Homo sapiens: one gene and its partners. The protein of the gene in region 1 interacts with the protein of each later gene in a pairwise test. Each region holds a gene or a part of one and is shown on either strand. Other genes may lie near its edges. The genes, in order: CLDN19, HSD17B13, MFF and CLRN1.

Region 1 (4,688 bases):
TATAACAGGATTCCGCAAGGCTGTGCTGAGTTTCCAGGTTCCAAATCCTGTTAGGTAGGGCTCTTCTGGCTGTGTGGGACAGGATTCAAACTCAACGTTTTTTCAGCCAAAAGGGGAATTGATTGGGAAGATGTGGGCGTGTCACAGAACAGCCTGGTATTGGGAAAGGCAGGAGTGAGTGGGGCTTCCTCTCCCCACCTCTTTTCTTTCTTTCTTTTTTGAGATGGAGTCTTGCTCTGTTGCCCAGGCTGGAGTGCAGTGGCACAATCTTGGCTCACTGCAGCTTTCGCCTCCTGAGTTCAAGCAATTCTCCTGCCTCAGCCTCCCGAGTAGCTGGGATTACAGGTGCCCACCACCACAGCCGGCTAATTTTTGTATTTTTTAAAAATAGAGACAGGGTTTCACCATGTTGGCCAGGCTGGTCTCGAACTCCTGACCTTGTGACCCACCCACCTCAGCCTCCCAAAGTGTTGGGATTACAGGCATGAGCCGCCACGCCCGGCTACCCACCTCTTTTCTTTTCTTTTTTTTTTTTTTTTTTGTGATGGAGTCTTGCTCTGTCATCCAGGATGGTGTGCAGTGGCACGATCTTGGCTGACTGCAACCTCCACCTCCCGAGTTCAAGCGATTCTCCTGCCTCAGCCTCCCGAGTAGCTGGGATTACAGGTGCCCACCACCACAGCCAGCTAATTTTTGTATTTTTAATAGACACGGGGTTTTACCATATTGGCCAGGCTAGTCTCGAACTCCTGACTTCAGGTATCTACCCACCTCGGCCTCCCAAAGTGCTGGGATTACAAGCGTGAGCCACCGTGCCTGACCTCCACCTCTTCCCTTGTGGGTTCTTTTCTCCCTCTGCAGACCTCACAGAGTCACCTGGGCTTGAGGCCTCATAGAGGAGCCCTCAGTGCTGACCACACACTACAGTCCCCTGAGGAGCTACATGACTTCTGATGCCAGGTCCACCCAGACCAATGAAATAAGAGTGTCTGGGGTTGGAGCCTAGGCATTGTGCCCCCAGGTGATTCGAATGTGCATGCAGGGTTGGGAACCATTGCACTATAGCTTCAGGCACCCAGAGGAGAAACTCCTGCAGTTCTCATTCATTAGAGGGGCAGGACTCTGGGGAACCTATTTAGGGTCAGGTGGCCACATCCTCTGACCAGAGGCTGGACAAGTCCCTGTTGTGCCCCGGTGGATGTGCAGCACCGGCCAGGCCAGGCGCCGAGGGGTCAGTCCCCCAGCAGCTCCCTGCCATTTGTGTCATTCCTCCCCTCCCTGCCCTTGACTGCAGTGTACATGGCAGTCATCTCATCTGACTTGGTTTCCGTCACTTTCCCTCTCAGAGTCAAGCTCGAAGGAGAAGCTGAGCTGCGTTCTTGAGATCTGGGGACGTGGTGGGAGATGTGGTCACAAGGCAGGTGGTGGAGGAGGCCAGAATGGAGCTGGCCAAGGAAGGTGCGTGGCAGGGAAGGGGAGGTTCTGTGATGGATGCTTTCCCCAGAAGCCTGATACGCAGTGGCCAGGGAGACTGAGTCCCGGGAGAGGGTTTGGGGTGGGAGAGGTCTGAGCATGAGGGGCAGGGCACACTCTGGTTCAGGGAGATGTAGGACAAAGGACTCTGGCCTTGGGACTGATCTGGGCTGGTTTCCTTACATTCCTCTCAGGCCCTTCCCCCTGTATGCTAAGGGGGGATGGTACCTGGACTTCAAGACCAAAAGCCCTTCTCTGACCGCACTGCTGAGTGCAGCAGGCAGCTCCACCCACAGTCTCTGGGCAGCCCCAGGCTGTCCCCTCCCCACTCTGATTCTAGGACAAAGACCTTGGACCTCAGCTGGATGCTGGGGATCAGGAGAGGAGGAATGGTAGGTGTGGAAACAAGGGGCAGGATTCGGGGTGAGCAGAGCTGGGGGCTGCAGACCTTGCTCAGGACAGTCCTAATGCCTGCAAGCTCCTAACGCCCTCCCCACATTCCCTTTTCTACATGGGGAGCTCCTACACTGTGTCCCCTCACCTATCGCTGATCCCCAGCATCCAGCTGGAGGGCCTTCCAGGAACTGTCCCTTCCCTTAGGAGGTCTCTGGAGCACAGTAACAGGGGCAGGGTTTACTACCTTGGGGCCTCTTTCCACACCAGGGGCTCCCTGACCCTGGGGACTGCTCCTAGAGCTGGGCCAAGCCTCAGGGGCAGCCTCCAGGAGTGAGTGGGATCTCCTATCAAGGAGGACTTTGTGCCAAGGCCAAGGCCAGGCTTGGGAGGGGGGTCCCTAGACAGAGGGTAGGACCTCTGAATTATTTCTTGCTTAGCCCTGGATGTGCTATGTAACCCACCCTGGACCTCTGTCTCCTCATCTTTCTGCCCAAGAGCCCCAGGGGTCAGCACTGACCACTCTGACACAGGCCCCGTCCAAGCCACGCTGAGGACAGACCGAATGATACCATGATTGGGGCTGGATGTTCACTTCTCTTTCCAAAAAAATATGAAACACACAGTCTAGGTATGGCAGGGGACAGAGCCTGGCTGGGGACTGGACATTACACACCCAGGGGGCCCTTGGCGGAGGCGGGCAATTTAACAACTGGTCTGAAAGTCAAAAGAGAGAGAGCTGGTTAGTGGAGTGAGCTGTGGGGTCGGGGGCAGGGGCTGTGCATTCAGGCCCGGACATGGGTACTGGCCAGCGTGGCCAGACCTTGGCCCTCACAGCAGCCCTGCCTGGGGCCCATTCCCGGGGGCAGGGGCGCCATGGTCCGACCTCACCATCTGTGTAGGTGGCCCCCAGCCCTGGGCGCACTGGAAGAACCTGAGACCTAAACTCAGACCCTCCCTGTCCTTGTGTGAACGTTCAGCATCCCGGCACTGCCCTTGTGGGGTTGCTGTGAGGAGCCCATGGGACTGGGGAGGGTGAAGGTTTCTGCTCACCCCAAGGACCTGGGTACTAAGGTACGTCTTGGCCACTGCTCTATCTCTAGGGCCCAGCACGTAGCAGACACCCAAGCAGCTCTTCAGTGAGTAAACAGCCGGGCTGGTGCCTGAGGGCCTGTCTCCAGGGATGCATGCTGGTGCCCACCAGGCTGTGCAGACAAGACCGTGCCTGGACCTGCATCTGTGTGTATGCCTGGGGGCTGGGTCCTGCCTCTGGTGTCTCTCTGAGGATCTGGGTCTCAGATTGCAGGGTGGGTGCTTGTGTTGAGGACAAGCTGCTCAGAGCACCTATGCCCATCCTATGCCCCAGTGGCCCTGCCCAGGGTGCTGCGAGGCTGGCTGGATGCTGGGCAAGGGGGCCACTGGGTGGGGGGCTGGCCAGGGCAGGCGGAGCTCAGACGTACTCTCGGGCAGCAGCAGAGGGTCCAGGCCGATAGGGCTGTGGGCTGCTGTTGGGTCTCTCTGGCTCCGGGCATGTGCAGCAGAGGAAGGAGCCGCCCAGCACGGCCAGGCCAGCTGAGGCCCAGCCCACGAACAGGGCTGGGCCAAATTCATACCTGCAAGGGGTAGGGAGAGTGGCATCAGGTGTGGCTGCCGTCTCAGGTTGTTCCCAGTCCCTGCCCTGGCAGAGGAAGGGCAGAGTGTGTGGAGCTGGAGGCTGGAGCCTCACAACCTCTTCCATATCTCCAGATAAATTGAGGTGAATGCTCTTCCTTTCTCCCTCCCCCCCAGCCCAGAATATCAACACCACACAGGGTGACCCGGCCTGGGGTAGGCGTGAAGGCTAGAGGCTGGGCCTCCAGCTCCTGCTCTGAGCAACCTTGGGCTCATTTCCTGATCTGGCCAGTGGAGGGGGCATGGGAGGGCCTGAGAGGTCTGCACGGGAGGAGTGGGGCAATCCCTGCCATGTTTTTTCCCAGTCACATTCTGGCCCACAGAACTCCCAGCCAAGACTGCTCCCGCTGCCCTCTGGAGAAGGCCAGACCCTTCCACCTGGCACTCTGGGCTCTCCACACCCAGACCCTGCTGGCCAGGCCAGCCCTGCTCCTGGTTCTCACTGCCTTGGTGCCTTTGCACAAGGCACCCCCAGCTGGGGCACCAAGCCCCCCAGCCCACCACTCCTGTGCCTCCCCTGTTCCTTCTCTGCCTTCAGAGCCCAGTTCAGATGCCACCTCTTCGTGGGGTCTTTCCTTGACATCCTCTGTGTTCACCCCGCCCCTTGCGCCGACTCCACTACCATGCTTTCTCCAGGAGGCCTCAGCCCCTTGCTTGTCCGGCTCCCTGGGAAGCCCCTTGAGGGCAGACAGAGCCATCAGTGTCCCCAGGACCCAGCACAGGGCCTGGCAGCCCAAGTGGCATTGGGGACTGTTGAAGGGATCGGGGGCCGAGTCCTATCCTGACATGCCTGAGCTGGACCTTGCTTGGCAGACTTTGTGGCTGCAGCCACCACCCAGGGAACAAACCTTGTACCTGAGATCTCCTCCCTCCCCTTGCCTCTCAACACCTCTGCCTCCTCCAGGCATCCCTCCCGATTGCAAAAGCCCAGACATCTTTTCTCATCCTCTCTCCACCCCAAGGCCCAAAGCCCATTGGGATGTCTAGGGTTAAGACTGTCCCATTCTCTGCTCCTGGCTAGGCTGAGAAGTGAGGGAGGAGCCAAGGTGGGCCCAGGCCCTTTGCAGAGCATCCCCTTCAGTTCCCATGCCCACAGTCTTACAAGTCCTGGTTATCTCCTGAATATCAGCCTGCTTTCCACTGCTCCCTCC
Region 2 (2,633 bases), on another chromosome or scaffold:
TGATAAGTTGGTAAGCTAAAAGAGCAAGTTACAGAACATAATGTATGGTATGAAACTACTGATACGACCCATGCAATAAGAATATAATGTATTTGTCATGAACATGCATCAGTAAAAGACTGGAAGATTGTGCATTGACAGTGTGACCTCTGGGAAATGGGATTGCTGGGGGTAAGCTTCTATTTTTTACTTTCCATGTTTCTCTTTTGAATTTTTGTAACCATACTTTAAAAATAATACATTTTACTCATAAATTTCTTGATTATAAGGCAAGAAATTAAAAGAATGTTATGAAAAAAATTATTGCCGGTGACTAAGAAAAAAAATTAGAAACAATAGCACTGTGCTTAATCTCACACATAGAAAGGGGTCAGTAAGTTCCAGTTGATAAACCAGCACTCCTGCTGTCAAAGAAACCAGAGTTGAGAAAACCCCTGGATTCATTTAATAACTGCCAGATGTAGCTGTTACCATCCACATCCTTGGTTCTTGAAGGACACTCATAGAGACAGAGTTTAGAAGTCAAACGTTTTATTTTATAACTACAAGAGGTTATTTTTTTAAAGCACAATGACATATTTATTTTTAGTGAATTGTTTTTGTGACTTTTAAAAAAATCATTTGTTTTTAATAAAAACAAGAGGATAGTCCATGCAAAAGCATTCTATAATACATGTGAAAAACACACAAAACAAGATTAGTCTTGATGTAGTGGGAGTCGGATTATTTTTTCTATTAAAAAAAAAAAGGCTGGGCACGGTGGCTCACACCCGTAATCCCAGCACTTTGGGAGGCCGAGGCAGGTGGATCACGAGGTCAGGAGATCGAGACCATCTTGGCTAACATGGTGAAACCCCGTCTCTACAAAAAATACAAAAAATTAGCCGGGTGTGGTGGCGGGCGCCTGTAGTCCCAGCTACTCAGGAGGCTGAGGCAGGAGAATGGCGTGAACCCGGGAGGTGGAGCTTGCAGTGAGCTGAGATCATACCACTGCACTCCAGCCTGGGCGAAAGAGTGAGACTCCATCTCAAAAAAACAAAAAACAAAACAAAACAAAACAAAAACCAAAAAACCTTTCTTTCTTCCTTTTCTTCTCTTGGGTCCATTGTTTCTTATGTAATAGCCAGTACAGTTCCTTTTCCTGTGTTAGCTTTAATTTTTGAGCCTAAAATTGTCTAAACATCTCTGGGACCAAGGATATATGAAAGCATAAATTACAAAGAAAAAGGTTATCATGGGGCTAGAACTTAAAATTCTGAGATTTAAAATAGAGTCGGTCACCTTTCATAATGTATCTTATAAGACTATAAAAAGGGAGGAAATATAGAGGGTCCACTTTTGGTGGACTTCAGAGTTATACAGAAGACAGAATCAAGTAATAAAGTCCAGAATAGAGTTGCACCGTTTTGGGCTAATGAAAAAGGAAGAGGCTAGGGAAATCTTTCAAATGCTGAATCTTAAAATATGTCCAGGTTGAGATAAAGCTGCCTGCTGAAACTTGATCTCTTAGCTGTGCACTCATTCTGTGTTCTTGTTGATATTCTGTGGCATGGCTACAGATTGGAATGCTACTTGAACAGTCTTAAACCTTCCCTGTGTAAATAAGTTCTCTTTGTATTTACTTTTAGGGAGGTAGCTTTTGTCCACCTTTAAATGGAAAAATAAAATATCTTAAAGAAAACCTTTTAAGTATGTTTATGTAAGCACAGAAGTTTTTAAGAGGCATGAAAGGAAAAACAGACCTATGAAAAACTACGTAAATATTCTTGAGAAACAGGAAGACAGGTAATTAATCTTGTTCGTTTGACTGCTGCTAGTGCCAAACCAATGTTTTTAATATTATCAGGACTGAAAAAATGTGAAATAAAGCTTTGCAGCATTGATTCGAAACTATTCATATCATTATCATGCATACATCTCTGGCTGGAGCTTATTTATTCATTTCATTTTGATTTTGTGGCCAACCACTGCTTCAAATTGAATATTCTGCATACGATTTAAAATCGCTGAGGCGCGTTCAGGAAGAAACCTGTACAAAAAAGAAAAAAAAATTGAAAAATTTTCCATTTAAAATCTTTGACAACAGAGTTCTGTTTTTGGTCATTTAGAATACGCTGAGAGTTATCTGGTTTGCGTTTAACTTTCCTCCGTTCTTTTCTTCTCTTGCAACCACCTCTCTTTTACGTGTGCATCTTTCTTTTTCTTTTTTTTTTTTGACATAACTTCATAGTGGACTTCATTAGGAAAAGTGTAAAAACATTCAAATTCATAAAATTGAAATGAGACAGTAAAATTATGCCTTGTGGCTATAGTAATTGCTATAGTAATCACAAGTAAGGTAAAGTCTAAATTATTGCCTGAACACAGAGGTTGCAGTGAGCCGAGATCACGCCATTGCACTCCAGCCTGGGCGACAAGAATGAAACTCCATCTCAATAAATAAATAAATAAATTATTGCCTAAACAAACACTATTTTGTCAGGCTTCTGCTGCAAGCCCAAGGCAGAAAACATTGCAGTTATTAGAAGTCAGCCCAATTATGAATCTGCATTTGAAGCTGGAAGAAAGGGGAAAAAGTGTGTTCTGATTACAGCATCAAGACATTCTAGCCTGCAAAACAGTAACTTTATTAA
Region 3 (7,680 bases), on another chromosome or scaffold:
TCTTTGGGCTGGTCGAGGCCAGAGCCGGCTCTCTCAGCTTGCAGGGAGGTGTGGGGGGAGAGGCGCAGGCAGGAACCAGGGCTGTGTGCAGTGCTCGCAGGCCAGCACGCGTTCCGTGTGGGTGCGGGCTTGGCAGGCCCCACGCTCAAAGTGGCCGGCCAGCACCGCTGGCCCCAGGCAGTGAGGGGCTTAGCACTCAGGCCAGCAGCTGCAGAGGGTGCGCCGGGTCCCCCAGCACTACCAGCCCACCTGCGCCACGCTTGGATTCTCACCGGGCCTCAGCCACCTCCCCACGGGGCAGGGCTCAGGACCTGCAGCTCACCATGCCCGAGCCACCCCCACCATGGGCTCCCTCACAGCCTGAGCCTCCCTGATGGGCACCGCCCCCTGCTCCACGGCGCCTGGTCCCATCGACCGCACAAGAGCTGAGGTGTGCATGTGCGCAGCACGGGACTGGAGGGCAGCTCTGCCCACAGCCCCAGCACAGGATCCACTAGGCAAAGCCAACTGGACTCTAGAGTCAGGTGGGGTCTTGGAGAACTTTTATGTCTAGCTGGAAGATTGTATATGCACCAATCAGCACTCTGTGTCTAGGTCGGGGTTTGTGGATGCACCAATCAGCACTCTGTATCTAGCTAATCTGGTGGGGACTTGGAGAACTTTTACGTCTAGCTAGAGGATTGTAAATGCACCAATCAGCACTCTGTGTCTAGCTCAAGGTTTGTAAACACACCAATCAGTGCTCTGTGTGTAGCTAAAGGTTTGTAAACGCACCAATCAGTGCTCTGTGTCTAGCTAATCCAGTGGGGACTTGGAGAACTTTTATGTCTAGCTAGACGATTGTAGATGCATCAATCAGCACTCTGTCTCTAGCTAAAGGTTTGTAAACATACCAATCAGTGCTCTGTGTCTAGCTAATCTAGTGGGGACTTGGAGAACTTTTATGTCTAGCTAGAGGATTGTAAATGCATCAATCAGCACTCTCTGTCTAGCTAAATGTTTGTAAACGCAACAATCAGTGCTCTGTGTCTAGTAATCTGGTGGGGACTTGGAGAACTTTTATGTCTAGCTGGAGGATTGTAAATGCACCAATCAGCACTCTGTGTCTAGCTCAGGGATTGTAAATGCACCAATCAGCACCCTGTCAAAATGGACCAATCAGCTTTCTGTAAAATGGACCAATCAGCTCTCTGTAAAATGGACCAATCAGCAGGATGTGGGTGGGGGCCAGATAAAGGAATAAAAGCAGGCTGACTGGGCCAGCAGCAGCAACCTGCTGGGGTCCCCTTTCATGTTGTAGAAGCTTTGTTCTTTTGCTCTTTGCAATAAATCTTGCTGCTGCTCACTCTTTGGGTCCACGCTGCCTTTATGAGCTGTAACACTCACCGCGAAGGTCTGCAGCTTCACTCCTGAAGCCAGCAAGACCACAAACCCACCAGGAGGGACAAATAACTCTGGACAGGAGGAATGAACAACTCCAGATGTGCTGCCTTTAAGAGCTGTAACAGTCACCGCAAAGGTCTGCAGCTCCACTCCTGAAGCCAGCAAGACCATGAGCCCACCAGAAGGAAGAAACTCCGGACACATCTGAACATCTGAAGAAACAAACTCCGGACACATGACACACCATCTTTAAGAACTGTAAGACTCACCGCAAGTATTCGCAGCTTCATTCTTGAAGTCGGCGAGACCAAGAACCCACCAATTCCGGACACAGAAGGAAGGAAAACAAAGGGGAAAGCAGATTCTCTACAGAATGTGGATTTTTCCCATAAGAGACTTTGCAGGACAATTTCAAGGTAGGGCAAGGAAAGATATTTTTGGGTAAAATATTTTTATTTTCTTCCTTATTATGCCAGAGTCAGATTGGAAAGTAAGTCATGATATACACGGTTAAATAAAACCCATCTGATGTGCATTTATGGTTTGGAGAACATGACTCCCCAAACCCCTTAGATAGGAATTTGAGCAAGATAAAAAAATCAGAGCTTAGTCCTCAGAACCAACCTAATGCATGATCTCCCAACTTGATCTCTATCTTCCCACAAAAGATTGACTTGGAATGACTTATTATTCCTAAAAATCAATCTATTCTTAAAGGCTTATTTGTCTCTGTAGGGTAGTTGTTAAGAGTTAAAGAAAGAAGAGAGAAACACAAAAAGTGGCTCAACAATCAAGGATAGGTTTATTTTAGAGAATAAACCTGAGAGGGGCTTCTGGCCAATTTTGGTCAGGAGCACTCTCTCTTACAGACTAAGAGTATTTAAGGGTTTAGGGTGAGAGAGCTTATCACAGGCTTGGAATATTTCTGCTTGGAGGAGAAGTTTATTACAGGGTTGGAATGTCTCTGGTTGGAGGGGAGGGGTTATCTTGGGGCTGACATCGCTCCGGTCAGAGGGAAGGTTATCTTGGGGCTGACATCGCTCGGTCAGAGGGAAGGTTATCTTGGGGCTGGCATGTGTCTGGTGGGAGAGGGGTTTATCTTAGAGTTAGAATGTTTCTGGTCGGAGGTGTCATTTGTGGTTTGTGGTCATGCTGACAGCCATTAGGCTGATGCCCTCTGGGTTGGATTTAGGTGGTTTTTGATCAAGGGGCACTTTAAAATGGCAGTGCTTCTGCTCTGTCAATAGTAGGATATGCCAACCCAAAATATGGCACTTTGGCATAAAGATTATTTTCGAGTCAAAGGCACTTAAAAAAAAAATGCAAAAAGAGCACTGTGGCTTTCCTTTTTCCTTCCTGAAAGCAGGAGATAAAACTTCCGTATGAAAGGTGCCCTCCCTGTATAAGGAGGAAGGGAGATGTTCTCAACACCAGAGACATGGAGTCAAAGCTGAGCTGTATCTGCACAAACTTACCGATTTTCATTTCCACTTTGTTACAACAACCTTTATCTTCTTAGTCACTTCTGCATTAACTGCACTAACCCAAATCTGTTTGTTTTCTCACATTTTCACAATTTACTACTCTTTTTAGCCTTCCCTAGAAAAATGGAGACTCAAAAGCACTTAGGGTCCAACTGTTAATTTGGGTCTCCATTTTTCTAGGGAAGGCTCCAATGTAAATGTAAAAATTACTAAATAAAATTTGTATGCTTTCCTCCTGTTATGTTTTATGTCTCTATTTTACGTCAGTGGAGACTAAGCTCTGATTTTTTTTTTAATCTTGCTCAAATTCCTATCTAAGGGGCCTAGGGATTCATGCCCTACAATCCATAAATTCTCATCAGATGGGTTTTATTTAACCCTATATATTGTGACTTACTTTCCAATCTGACACTGGCATAACGAGACAAGAAACAAAATCAAAATATTTTACCGCAAAACATTTTTTTTAGTTTTTGACATATCTTGAAACGGCTCTGCAAAGCTGTCCTTTGTTGGGGGAAAATCTGCATCTACATAGAATTTCTATTAACATAGCTAGATCATTTTCTTCCAGGTCCTCCCAATCCTAAAGAGATTACGTAAGAATCTAGCACCTTTTAAAGATCTGAATAGGAAACATTTGTCATCCATTGTCTCTAAGGGCAGCCACTATAAGACTTCAAAAGAACCTTGGTCTCCACAATCTTTTATTTTAACCTCAACATTTCCTTTCTATGGGTCCCAGGTCTTCAACTGTCAACCAGAAAATGTTTAAATTTACCTACAGCCTTGGAAGCCCCTGCTTTGAGTTGTCCCACCTTTCTGAACCAAACCAATGTAGTTCTTAAATTTATTTGATTGATGTCTCATGCCTCCCTAAAATACATAAAACCAAGCTGCGCCCCAACCACCTTGGACACATGTTCTCAGGACCTCCTGAGGGCTCTGTCACGGGCCATGGTCACTCACATTTGGCTCAGAATAAATCTCTTCAAATATTTTAGAGTTTGACTCTTTTCCTCATCAGTTTAATTCTTAGGCCCAGCCAAGACCCCAAGAGGGGAGAGGAAATATTTTCACTTTCCCTACACCAGTGTTAAGAAGCCCAAGAACGCAATTCAGAGGGCTTCCCAAATCATTTTGAAGAATGGTAACATCTCTAGAATATCAATTAGATCGTAGGGGAGTACATAAGTCATGTGTACACCTTTAGGTGTTTGTGAAAACCAAGGCATATAAAATATCACATTATTTGGCCTCAGTACATTCCCATACTGACAAGCACTGTACCATTTTTCCCCCGCTCTAAGCAAGGGCTTCCTGGGGGGAAGAGTCTGTGGTTGGGTGTTCAGAAGCAGAGAGTGCTCTCCCAAAGCTAAACGATGCCGCCAACTACTGTGAAACTTAACTTCCCCTCTCCCGGAATTCTCATGGAAGACAAGGTCTGATCAACCGAGGGCTTAAGAAGTATCAAATTGGAACTCATGGAATCACTGGCGGAGCTGATTTACATATGAGAATTCCTAAGCCTCACAGCATAGAAATTTTCATGCCAGATGGTCCTGAAAAAGTTGTTTTAATTGGCTACCAAAGGTTTACCTTGCAAACACCAAGTTCTTAAAGATTACAAAATCTAATAAAGCCGAAGTGTGAATTAAACTTAACCGCAAGAGGAGTCACCTGCGGTCACCTCGTTTCGCCCACAACAAAGATGTCTGCGCATCGCTTACCGTGGAGCCGTTCCAGTGCGTGGGCCACGCGTCCGCCCTTTTCCGCGTCACATGACCACGAACACTCTTCCGCTACGGCTCCCAGAAGGGGCCAGCCCGCGCCTTTCGCGCTTCTGCCCTGGCCCTCTGCGGGCCGCTCCGCCGGTGCTGTCCCTGGGCGCCTCCGTGCTCTCAGCCAACCACCTCTGAGAGCGCCCACTCGAGCGCCCCGGGAGCCAGAGGGCGGGGGTCCTCGCCGGGACCCTCCTGTGGGCCCAGGGGTGAGTGTTGACGTCTTCCCGACCCGCGACCTGCCGCCCGAGCTGGCTGCCAGGCCTATCGCCGCCGCCGAGACCCTCCGGCCAACAGGGACCCGCGGTGGCCCCGGCCCCCCCGGTAGTGTCTCCCTGACCCGAGTCCCGTCCCCGGGCCTCTTGCCTTCAACCCTGGTCTTTCCTCCTCCCCGGGACCTTGAGTCCCCGAGGAGAGCGAGGGAGAGGAGCGTCTTCTGCAGGTGTTTTTGGGCGAACCTCTTCACCTTGTGTGGTTCGGCGTCTCCTTTTGTGTATTAACCCGGACTTTTCCGACTGGAAAATAGGGGTTTGGGAAGCAGCGGGAGTCCCGTGAGCGTGAACGCCGGGCTTTGCAGGTCTTCACTCATCCTTCCCTGCCAAGGCCCTGACACCTTACAGGCTGACCTTAAACCTGCCTTGTTTAAAAGGAGGTTTTTGTGTTGTTTTGTGGCAAGTACATTTTGGAAAAGAAGGGCCTTGTTGGAAGCCCAGGTTGTGGCATCGCGGGTGGCTGCGGGCCACCCTGTCCGTCTGTGAGCATCCCTGCTCGCAGATGTGGCTGCAGGCAGTTGCTCTCGGGTTTCCTTCCAGGAGCTGGGAAGCCGGAGGAAAGCTGCGGTTCCTGTTCCGCCGAGCTTCTGACCTTCCTCTGCAGGACGTGTGCTACTATTACTATCGTAAAAGAACACCCCTGTCTACCTCCCACAAAGTTAGAAGCAAAGGGCATTCTCGAGGGAAGAGCACCCTTTCAAAAGTGACATGTTTTCATTGGAGAACATTAAAGGGGAAAAAAAAAAAAAAGGTTTCTGGCCCTTCTGCCCAAATATAGAACCATTTGTATTCAGGCCTCTCATCCACCGAGAGACTTAAGATGATCACAAATGTTTTGTCTCCCTGCGTGAAAAACATTTTTTCTGCCTCAATTCCGTTGGCTAATGAGAGCCCAAAAGAAAAACCCTTAGGAAAATTAGGACGATTTAGTTATACTTAGTAGTCTTTTCCCATGCAATTAAATTGCTTGGGGGACCTTCTATCTTTTGGTTTCAAAGGCTTGTATATTGGTTTTGCCATTTTTTCCAAAAGGAAATTGTGTTCTCTCCCTTCCTGTCTGATAGAGCTGCCTCCTTTCAGAATTGCAAAGTTTAGTCTTCGCTCTCCTCTCTTCTGGTATTGAAACTTTTCTGTGGGTTCATAACCTTATTTTAAAGTTCATTAATATATAGTTTTAAAAGTTTGCAGTGACTTTTTAAATATAGTTTCTTTGAAAAAGAACTGAAACAGGGTGTGCAGAGTGGCCCATCTGTGTGAACTAGGTCCACGCAGTAGGTAATAAACAACTGGAGGGTTTTTTTTGGTTTGTTTTTGTTTGTTTGTATGTTTGTTTTTGAAAAGTACATAAACATTTGCAACCACAGTCAGTTTGACTCAAGTTGTTTCGGTGACTTCCGAGGCTTTCTGGGTTCCAGTGTTCTAATACAGAAAATGAGAAAGTTGGGCTGGAATCATTGTGTCCCAAAATTGGTACACTTTCCGCTAGTGGCATGTGACTTGACTCTAGGCGGTACGTGGATGAGGATTTTTTTGTAATAGGATGTTTTTGCAATCTGTATTTATATATGTACAGCCATGGTTTAAGGTAGTGATACAAAATTTTCTTTTACAATACTTTTTTGATTTTAAAAAGTCGAGTTAAAAAAATTAACTGTAGCAAAAAGTTAATGTACTCTGTGAATATGGGAAAAAAAAAACCCATGAAGTTGGCAAGTTAGTTACTGGTGTTTGGGAACCACTGGGCTTAGAAAGTAGAAATATGAAATCATCTGTGATTCTAAGAGAGATTTTGCCTCGTTTGTTATGTAACAGAATCACGTACTGGTTGCCTACTGGATTCTAAGGTACAAAACTTCTGGAATTAACATATCAACACCAAATGAGACGTTTATTTATTGCCAAAAGATATTATCAGAAATGCCACAGTCTAACGAGGGAGAAAAAAAATCAGATTTTGATTGGTTTTAAGCAGAAAACCCAATAATTGGGATAATACAGTGTTAAATCTTAGTAGAAATCCAGTTACTTTTTAAATGTAAGTAGTTCAGCTACAGGAGAACTTGGCTTTTTCCAGAAGTTGGCATTTCAGCATCCACCTTTATTTTCTAAGTCACTAGTTTTTTACAAACTCAGATATTCTCGTAAGAAAAGATGTTGCTATAGAATGGAATATAGTAGTGAGACCTATGAGATGTACTACTAGAAAGTTCGTAAGACTGAAATGCAATGAATGGAATGCAGAGAAAGCACATTTCAAGGAGATACTGAGGTTCTAGCCACTTGGTTCTCGTTTATTATTATAAAACTTCAATTTATAATGGCCAAAGGCTATAATCTTTTTGAGGTAGCTTTTTTCAGTGTTAGTTCTGAATATGAGCTTTTGCTATGCTTGAGATACACGCAAGTATTAGAAGAGCATCTCATCTGGAATGATGCACAAAAATTGATTATAAAGGTTGCCTGTGGGAACCTGGGTGGTTAAGGATAGGATTGAAAGTGGGACACTTCCTTTTCTCTGTATAGCTTGCGTACTTTGTACCGAGTACATGCATTACTAGTTCAAAATTTTAACATCGTAAGTGAATGAAAATTTAAACAGGCCGGGCACGGTGGCTCACACCTGTAGTCCCAGCACTTTAGGAGACGAAGGCCAGAGGATTTCTTGAGCCTAGGAGTTTGAGATCAGCCTGAACAACATAATAAGACCCTGTCTCAACAAAAAATACAAAAATTAGCTGGGTGTGGTGGCATATGCCTGTA
Region 4 (7,152 bases), on another chromosome or scaffold:
CCCTCCCAGTATAGCAGCTCGATTTTTGTCTTATTTCACACAAGTTGTGTTGAGGCAATGGTTTTTCTTCTTAAAAATGATTTGAGAATCACCTATGCAGCCCAGACCACTCTTTTCATAAATATGTAAAATTAATGCCAGAGAAGGAATTCTTAATTTAGCCATACAGCTGGAAATAGACCCTGGACAGGATCTTCCCATGCCATGCTATACTGTCTCTTATACTTGGCGAACAAACCAGGTGAGAATTTGCATCCCTTTGTAATGGGGCTGCTTTTTTTCTTTTGTTTTCAAATGGTTATAAGGAAAAACTGATGCAGCCAAGTTAGTGTGAGAAGAGGCACAAATGCTACACTGGAAGTGAAAACAGAGTCTGCAATTGTGCTCCTTTCTCTACAGAATCTCTAGTCACTCTGAAGAATTATATCATTATCCAGCACCTGAAAGGGGTCAGAGGAGGGGGAGGCCTAGTTCCATTTTCTTATGTCACCGAATGTATTCCTATTAAGATTGAGAGAAGTAAAGATTTCAGCAGGATACTTGGTGAAAACTTGCTGACATTAATGACTCAAATTCTCAGAGAGACTGCAAGGAAAATGGTGTCATCACTGTCATTCAAGACATTTAAGATGAAATTTCAAAAGAAGGCTGTCAGGCATAATGACTGCCAGGTTCCATTATATCATTCTCAGAGGGTGGATCACACACACTACTACGCAGCCTGTGGGTGGCTGATGCTGAAGTTTGAAAGGAAGCTGCATGGAGAAGAGGTGAGGGGGGCTGCCTCACATGAACAGGATACAGCACCATTGATATTCATATGGTGATTTGGGGGTAAATCTATGAATCGGGGCCTGGTCTTTTGTTGTGGATATGCTGAAACCTAGTGCTGAAAAAATGTAGGAAAGTTTGAGCTGTAAATGGTAGTGCCTATTTATTAATTTGCTATGAGCATATTCCTCTCTAGCGACCCAGATGCTCATGTCTGTGTGCATTCCAGCACTGAGATGCCTGCAAAGCCTAGTTTGTAATCAGTAGATAGCCATGTGAAAAGGAGATAAGGGCAGTGGCTTCCAACCTTGGCTGCACAATGCAATCACCTGGGGTGATTCGACGCTAAGGCCATACTCTAAAATCAAATAAATCTGAATCTCAGGGATGAGGACACAGACATCAGTACTTTTAAAATCTTCTCAAGTGATTCTAATGAGCAGCAAAACTGAGAACCACCGTGTCAAAGCAAAGGGTGAGGTTTTAGGCCTCAAAGGGTGAGTCTCACCCTTTCCACTCAGGGATCTTTTATGTCATAGAGCAGTGGGTTTGATTTGGTTTTGTTTTAAATCAGGAGTAGACATAGGTTTGCCAGTTTCTAAATTTGTCAAATAAAATCATTAAAAATTCAACTACCATTATCTCATTAAAGAAAGAAAATTTCAACAATAAAAATTAGGAAGGGCCTAACTTCAGGATATAAGAGTAACTCAGTATGTTGTATTTATTTTTCCCATGTCTCTACAGACGAGTGAACATGTCGCTACAGACTGATGCAAACTGATGCAACTGATGTGATCTAATTGCTCTCTACACCCATAATCAAGGCTTTCCTCCTTGGACAGCTTTAGATATACTTGGCTGAGTTTGGGTTAATTAAACCGCTGTCCTATGCTAACTATCCTTCTCTTGCCATATCCTTTAGTAGAGGTTATTAATAGTATTGATTAAGTTGTAGGTGATTTCTTCTCCCAGGCTTTGGAAATGTTCTGTCTCTTCCAATTACAGAATATGTTGATTTAGTAAGCTCAGCTCTGCTTAGACATCTTAAACTAAGTTTTCTAGGGTGACTGTGGCACATATATGCCCAAATAACCACTTATCAGGGGCACTGGCACCCCCTTGTTTTGCTAGTGGACCATGATAGCGATTATTCTAAATCCAGTGGTGAATTCATTGGAGGGCCAAATAAACTGAGATGAGTTGCTTATTCTGTGTTCTAGCAATTATTCTAAATCCAGTGGTGAATTCATTGGAAGGCCAAATAAACTGGGATGAGTTGCTTATTCTGTGTTAAGTTATACAAAATAAAAAAGACTTACTAATATTGTAAACTTTATTTTAAGTGCCTCTTTGGAATCTTCTATATGCCCAGTTCTTCTGTGGCCATGTTTTATATTGCCCCTCTTCTCCCCGAAGGTACATTGGCATTCTAGAATGAGTTCTATACTTAGTTGTCTGTCCTTAACGAGACTGGCTGTTGCGACTCCTAGGAGAGGCGAGCTGTGAGAGAAGTTTACCAGTACTCCGAGTCTATACCTCAAAGTTCCCTTCGAAGTGTGCATAATGTAGAGACTCATTTATGCTGAAAATGGTGTGAAATAAGTCTTCATTTATTAATTTCCTCTAAGCTGTCATGCTTAAAGGTGGATCAAAAGAATAGAAGCTAGCATACACATGTGCTTTTGGCCAACTGAAAAAGTTCTATTTACTGATGTCTGTGTTCTTCAAACACTCAATATGTGTAACTAATAATGGGCTAGTCTGCCCCTGTTACTCCTAGACGAACCCAACCCAAACTGAAATGTTTGCCATCTTTTCAAGGTCAGGGGCTTTGCTTGGAATAGAACATCAACCTCAGAAGTAGAAGACCTGGATTTGAATCCCAGCTCCACTACTCTCTTCAGCAAGTTGCTTAAACTCTCTGAGCCTCAATTCCCTTATATATAAGATACGAATAATTGCTTTTTCTTCTTCTTTCTTCTTTCTTATTCTTCTTCCTTCTTCCTTTCTCCTCCTCCTCCTCCTTCTTCTCCTCCTCCCTCCTCTTCTTCTTCCTCTTCTTCATTACTTTATATGCTAATTATGAGAATTACATATGATAATTTAGGTAGAATACTTCACAAGTTGCCAGACATAAGTTCTTACTAAACATTAACTTTGTAGGTCAGAGCTCAGGACAATAACATGGCATATAATAAACATTCACTAGACACTTCACACACACACACACACACACACACACACACACACACACACACACAGTCCTGTGTCTGTAGAAGGAGGAATCTCATTGGAAATGCAAAGTTAAAAAGCTGTTACTGAATTCTGAACTTTAGTTTCCAGGTCTTGACCGTTTAACCAGACCTACCTGCTGCTTAATCTTTGCTCATAACTGTCTCTAGTCTCCCAAACAGATTACCTTTGCTGAGACCTGTGCATTTTTATGATGAATCCATAGAGTCACCTATCTGACCACCATCCCTCTTTCCATCAATATGCCCTTATCTTTACAGATCCTGGTATTCCTTGGACCCAGAAACACATTCCCTTGCTATTATCCTAAAGCAGCTAAGCCTGTTAAAGGAAAGCATTTAGAAATCTAGATATCTGCTCCTGCATTTTCATATTTCTGTATGCCAAGAAAAATTTGAATCAAATTCTCTATTGATACATTAGGTATAAACCATGGATCTGGGAGAAATTAAGTTGGAAGGACAAGGACCCATGGTTGATCCAGAGCACTTAATATTCGTGTAGGACCAAATTCTGTTTAATATTTTTATCCTGCTGTAATTAAAAATTTTTGACATCAACTATCAATACAGGTACATATGTTCTCCCTACCTCTGCTAAAGCTCCTTCCCCCACCACCAAAAACAATAACAAACAAAAAACAAAAATAAAAACATCGATAAGTGAACTTCTCAAGTTGCTGAAAATGTACCATCAGATTCAAGCCTGTTTCTGAAAGTTTCAACTCACCCAATCAGACAAAAGGCTGAGGAAGGGAAACATTTATCAAGTTACACTGAGGACTCCATCTGTTATCTTCGACCTTTGTTACCAAGTGACACAGAGGAGATACTTGAAGGCAGTTTGAAAGACTTGTTTTACAGATTCTTAGTCCAAAGATTTCCAATTAGGGAGAAGAAGCAGCAGAAAAGGAGAAAAGCCAAGTATGAGTGATGATGAGGCCTTCATCTACTGACATTTAACCTGGCGAGAACCGTCGATGGTGAAGTTGCCTTTTCAGCTGGGAGCTGTCCGTTCAGCTTCCGTAATAAATGCAGTCAAAGAGGCAGTCCCTTCCCATTGCTCACAAAGGTCTTGTTTTTGAACCTCGCCCTCACAGAAGCCGTTTCTCATCATGCCAAGCCAACAGAAGAAAATCATTTTTTGCATGGCCGGAGTGTTCAGTTTTGCATGTGCCCTCGGAGTTGTGACAGCCTTGGGGACACCGTTGTGGATCAAAGCCACTGTCCTCTGCAAAACGGGAGCTCTGCTCGTCAATGCCTCAGGGCAGGAGCTGGACAAGTTTATGGGTGAAATGCAGTACGGGCTTTTCCACGGAGAGGGTGTGAGGCAGTGTGGGTTGGGAGCAAGGCCCTTTCGGTTCTCATGTAAGTAGCAATTGCATTTGAGTTATTTAATGCTTTAGGCAGACTCTTCCCAGTGTTGCGAGGAATTATATTTGAGAATTTTGCCGTGTTTACTGCAGGACTTTTTAAATCGGTGTGAACCATATGAAAAACCTATGACTCTGAGCAATTTCTTCTTCCTAGTTTTTATTATTTTATACTTGCTTTTTATTATAATATAGAGTTAATTCATTGTTACATAATTAAGGTTTTTGGAAATATTGGCAATTAAGATGCTTAAGTATTAATATTTATGTAAAAAATTATGGAGTCTTTTTAAAAAAGTAAACTTGGGGAAATAGGAAAGCTGTAAAGAATGATCTTTATGCTTTTTGTTCTTTATAAAAAGAACCAAGGTCATGGGCTCCGTATTTAACCAGGTTGCCACCTTTCTCATGATTTTGTTTCCTGCTCCCCACTCCCTCCCATTATTCCTGCTAAGACCTTTCCTGCTGCTAAATATTCAGTTTTCATTTTTAACTAATTTGGAATCATTTGGCTATAGAAATTTAAAATGATCTGCTGTGCTAACTGGGAAAGAAATGGATGCCTATTTAGTATAGAACATTTTAAACTGATTGACCTGCAAATCATGTAGAGAATATGAGAGAGATTTTCTTGTTGTGATTTTTGTGAAATGGAAGTGTAATCCACAGTATTTATAACCTGTTTATCTTAAGAAGAGAATTTTTAAAAATTACCATGTGAATAGGCAACTCATTAAATGAAAATTAATAGGAAGTCATTTGTTATATCTCTTACAACACACATTCAGAAGTTATTATTATTTCAGAAGGGCTGGTTTGGAACAACCTTATGAAGACACAGTCAGTAAATTACTGCATAAATCACTCTTCAGGAAAGGAGGTTACCAACTGAAGCATTTAAAATGAATTATTATTTTGCCCAGGTTTTTTTTTTCTTTCTAGTATAGGTAGAAGGCTAAATTAATTGAATTTATTATTAACATATGCAGTGCCTAATTAAATTTCAGTGCTGGTCTATTTATATTTCTGCAACATTCCTTATATCTTCTTAGCAGTCATTGGACACCAACCTTCAGCTCACATAGGTTACTAAGTGATATGAATTTTCATAGGGCTCCAGAAAATTTCCAAGAATTGGTTGTTAGCTTTTTAATTGATGAAGTGGATACCAGTTCTTTTCACTGAATGGCTTTTATTCATTAAGGTAATGGGGCTGTTAGAGTTGCTTAGTTTTCCTGGGGAAGGGGAAGGAAGAAAACAAAGCAGAATGTCATGTGATATGCAACTGTATTAAAAAACCGAAAAGGAAAAAAGTTGAGAGAGATGATTTAACCGTGAGTCACCGGCAGCCAAAGCGTGAGTAAAGCTTCTCACAGATGAATTTAGACAAAAGCGGAGAAGGTACTGGTGAATTTTCTGGAGCCTTTACATTTTCTACAGTGAAATGGAGATAAACTTTACTCATGCCATAGGACATGTTTCAAAACAATAATAAGATGTTTTCTGAACACTTACTACATACTAAGCACTTTATATGCTTTGTCTCATTTAATCCTTACACAGCCACATTCTTCTGGGGTTTAGCGAATGATTTTTGTGGTTGTGTCCTATGCTTGTCCTGTCTAAGGATGAAGTTGTTCTAATTGGGTGCCCCTCCTTTTGCTTTCTGTGAGGACTTGCAGAACTGGTGGGGTTTAAACAGTACCCTCACTTATCTCACAGAATTTCATTAGCTCCCAGATACCCCTGACATTCTCCCCCTAGCCTAGTGAAGAAAATCTTCCATTTACTTGTTCATTCTGCAGTGACAGCTCCATCAATATACAATAGACTATACATATTAAGTGTACTGTATATACTATACATGTTAAAAATCTCATTCATTTTGGTGAGGCCCAGCTAAGAATACTTACAGTAGAGCTTTTTTTTTTTTCCTAAGCATAAAAGTATCTTTTTCAATGCAGCATGAGACAGAGTTGGGAAAACCAAAATAAATAGATCCAATGGACTCCCCAAAGAGGATAATATTCATTTAAATAAACACCCCTCTCAGTGTTAAAACTTTCTAATCAACATGCCTTTGGGACACATTGCACCCTCAAAGTTTACACTCCCATTGCAACGCAGCTTTGTGGTTCACGTTTTTTCCATTCAGAATGTCATTACCCTGTCAATGATGTTTCATCAACGTTTGCTTGGATGAGAATCCTCTGATATTCTTCCTGATAGAAATGTATAAGCCCTGTTCATATAAATGAATAAAAGATCTAACCTTACTTTCTCAGTAGTGGCTTCCTTGGAGCAAAAAGCAGGGACCTCCAGAGAGCTCAGGTGGATGACTCTTTTCTGTTTCTTCCAGAGCTCAACTTACAATTAGTGCACAATTCATTTCCCAGAATGTCTTCTTTCTTATTGTGCCTTTAGAAAGTTATTAAGCAAACATTTGAATTCACAGAATCTTACCAGTGTAAGAGGAATGGAAAAGGTAACTTATCAAGGTAACAATCACTTCGTGGCCAGTTTTTTCGGCTCACTGCAACTACCCCTCCTGGGTTCAAGCGATTCTCCTGCCTCAGCCTCCCAAGTAGCTGGGACTACAGGCGTGCACCACCATGCCCAGCTAATTTTTTTTTTGTATTTTTAGTAAAGACAGGGTTTCACCATGTGGGCCAGGCTGGTCTCATGGCAAGTTTTCTTTGTGTTGTCATGTTATTATCAATTAATAGGAATTTATATTTCAGTTCTGTTAGGTG

The links.
Region 2: the proteins of CLDN19 (region 1) and HSD17B13 interact in binary tests that used the Homo sapiens proteins (3 or more experiments, as listed by UniProt).
Region 3: the proteins of CLDN19 (region 1) and MFF interact in binary tests that used the Homo sapiens proteins (3 or more experiments, as listed by UniProt).
Region 4: the proteins of CLDN19 (region 1) and CLRN1 interact in binary tests that used the Homo sapiens proteins (3 or more experiments, as listed by UniProt).

Annotation. Positions count from the first base shown.
Region 1 is NC_000001.11:42,732,552-42,737,239, forward strand, and holds the end of CLDN19 (claudin-19), read right to left. Parts: intron 3,480-4,688; coding exon 3,327-3,479; coding exon of another isoform or gene 3,211-3,326; exon of another isoform or gene 2,584-3,210; coding exon 2,535-2,583; 3' UTR 542-2,534; downstream 1-541. UniProt on the Homo sapiens protein: Forms paracellular channels: coassembles with CLDN16 into tight junction strands with cation-selective channels through the strands, conveying epithelial permeability in a process known as paracellular tight junction permeability.
Region 2 is NC_000004.12:87,303,280-87,305,912, forward strand, and holds the end of HSD17B13 (17-beta-hydroxysteroid dehydrogenase 13 isoform A precursor), read right to left. Parts: intron 2,030-2,633; coding exon 1,939-2,029; 3' UTR 515-1,938; downstream 1-514. UniProt on the Homo sapiens protein: Plays a pivotal role in hepatic lipid metabolism. In vitro, it catalyzes the oxidation of a variety of lipid substrates, including 17beta-estradiol, retinol, retinal, and leukotriene B4.
Region 3 is NC_000002.12:227,320,571-227,328,250, forward strand, and holds the start of MFF (mitochondrial fission factor), read left to right. Parts: upstream 1-4,680; 5' UTR 4,681-4,857; exon of another isoform or gene 4,858-4,972; intron 4,973-6,941; exon of another isoform or gene 6,942-6,955; intron 6,956-7,680. UniProt on the Homo sapiens protein: Plays a role in mitochondrial and peroxisomal fission. Promotes the recruitment and association of the fission mediator dynamin-related protein 1 (DNM1L) to the mitochondrial surface.
Region 4 is NC_000003.12:150,969,698-150,976,849, reverse strand, and holds the start of CLRN1 (clarin-1), read left to right. Parts: upstream 1-4,122; 5' UTR 4,123-4,141; coding exon 4,142-4,394; intron 4,395-7,152. UniProt on the Homo sapiens protein: May have a role in the excitatory ribbon synapse junctions between hair cells and cochlear ganglion cells and presumably also in analogous synapses within the retina.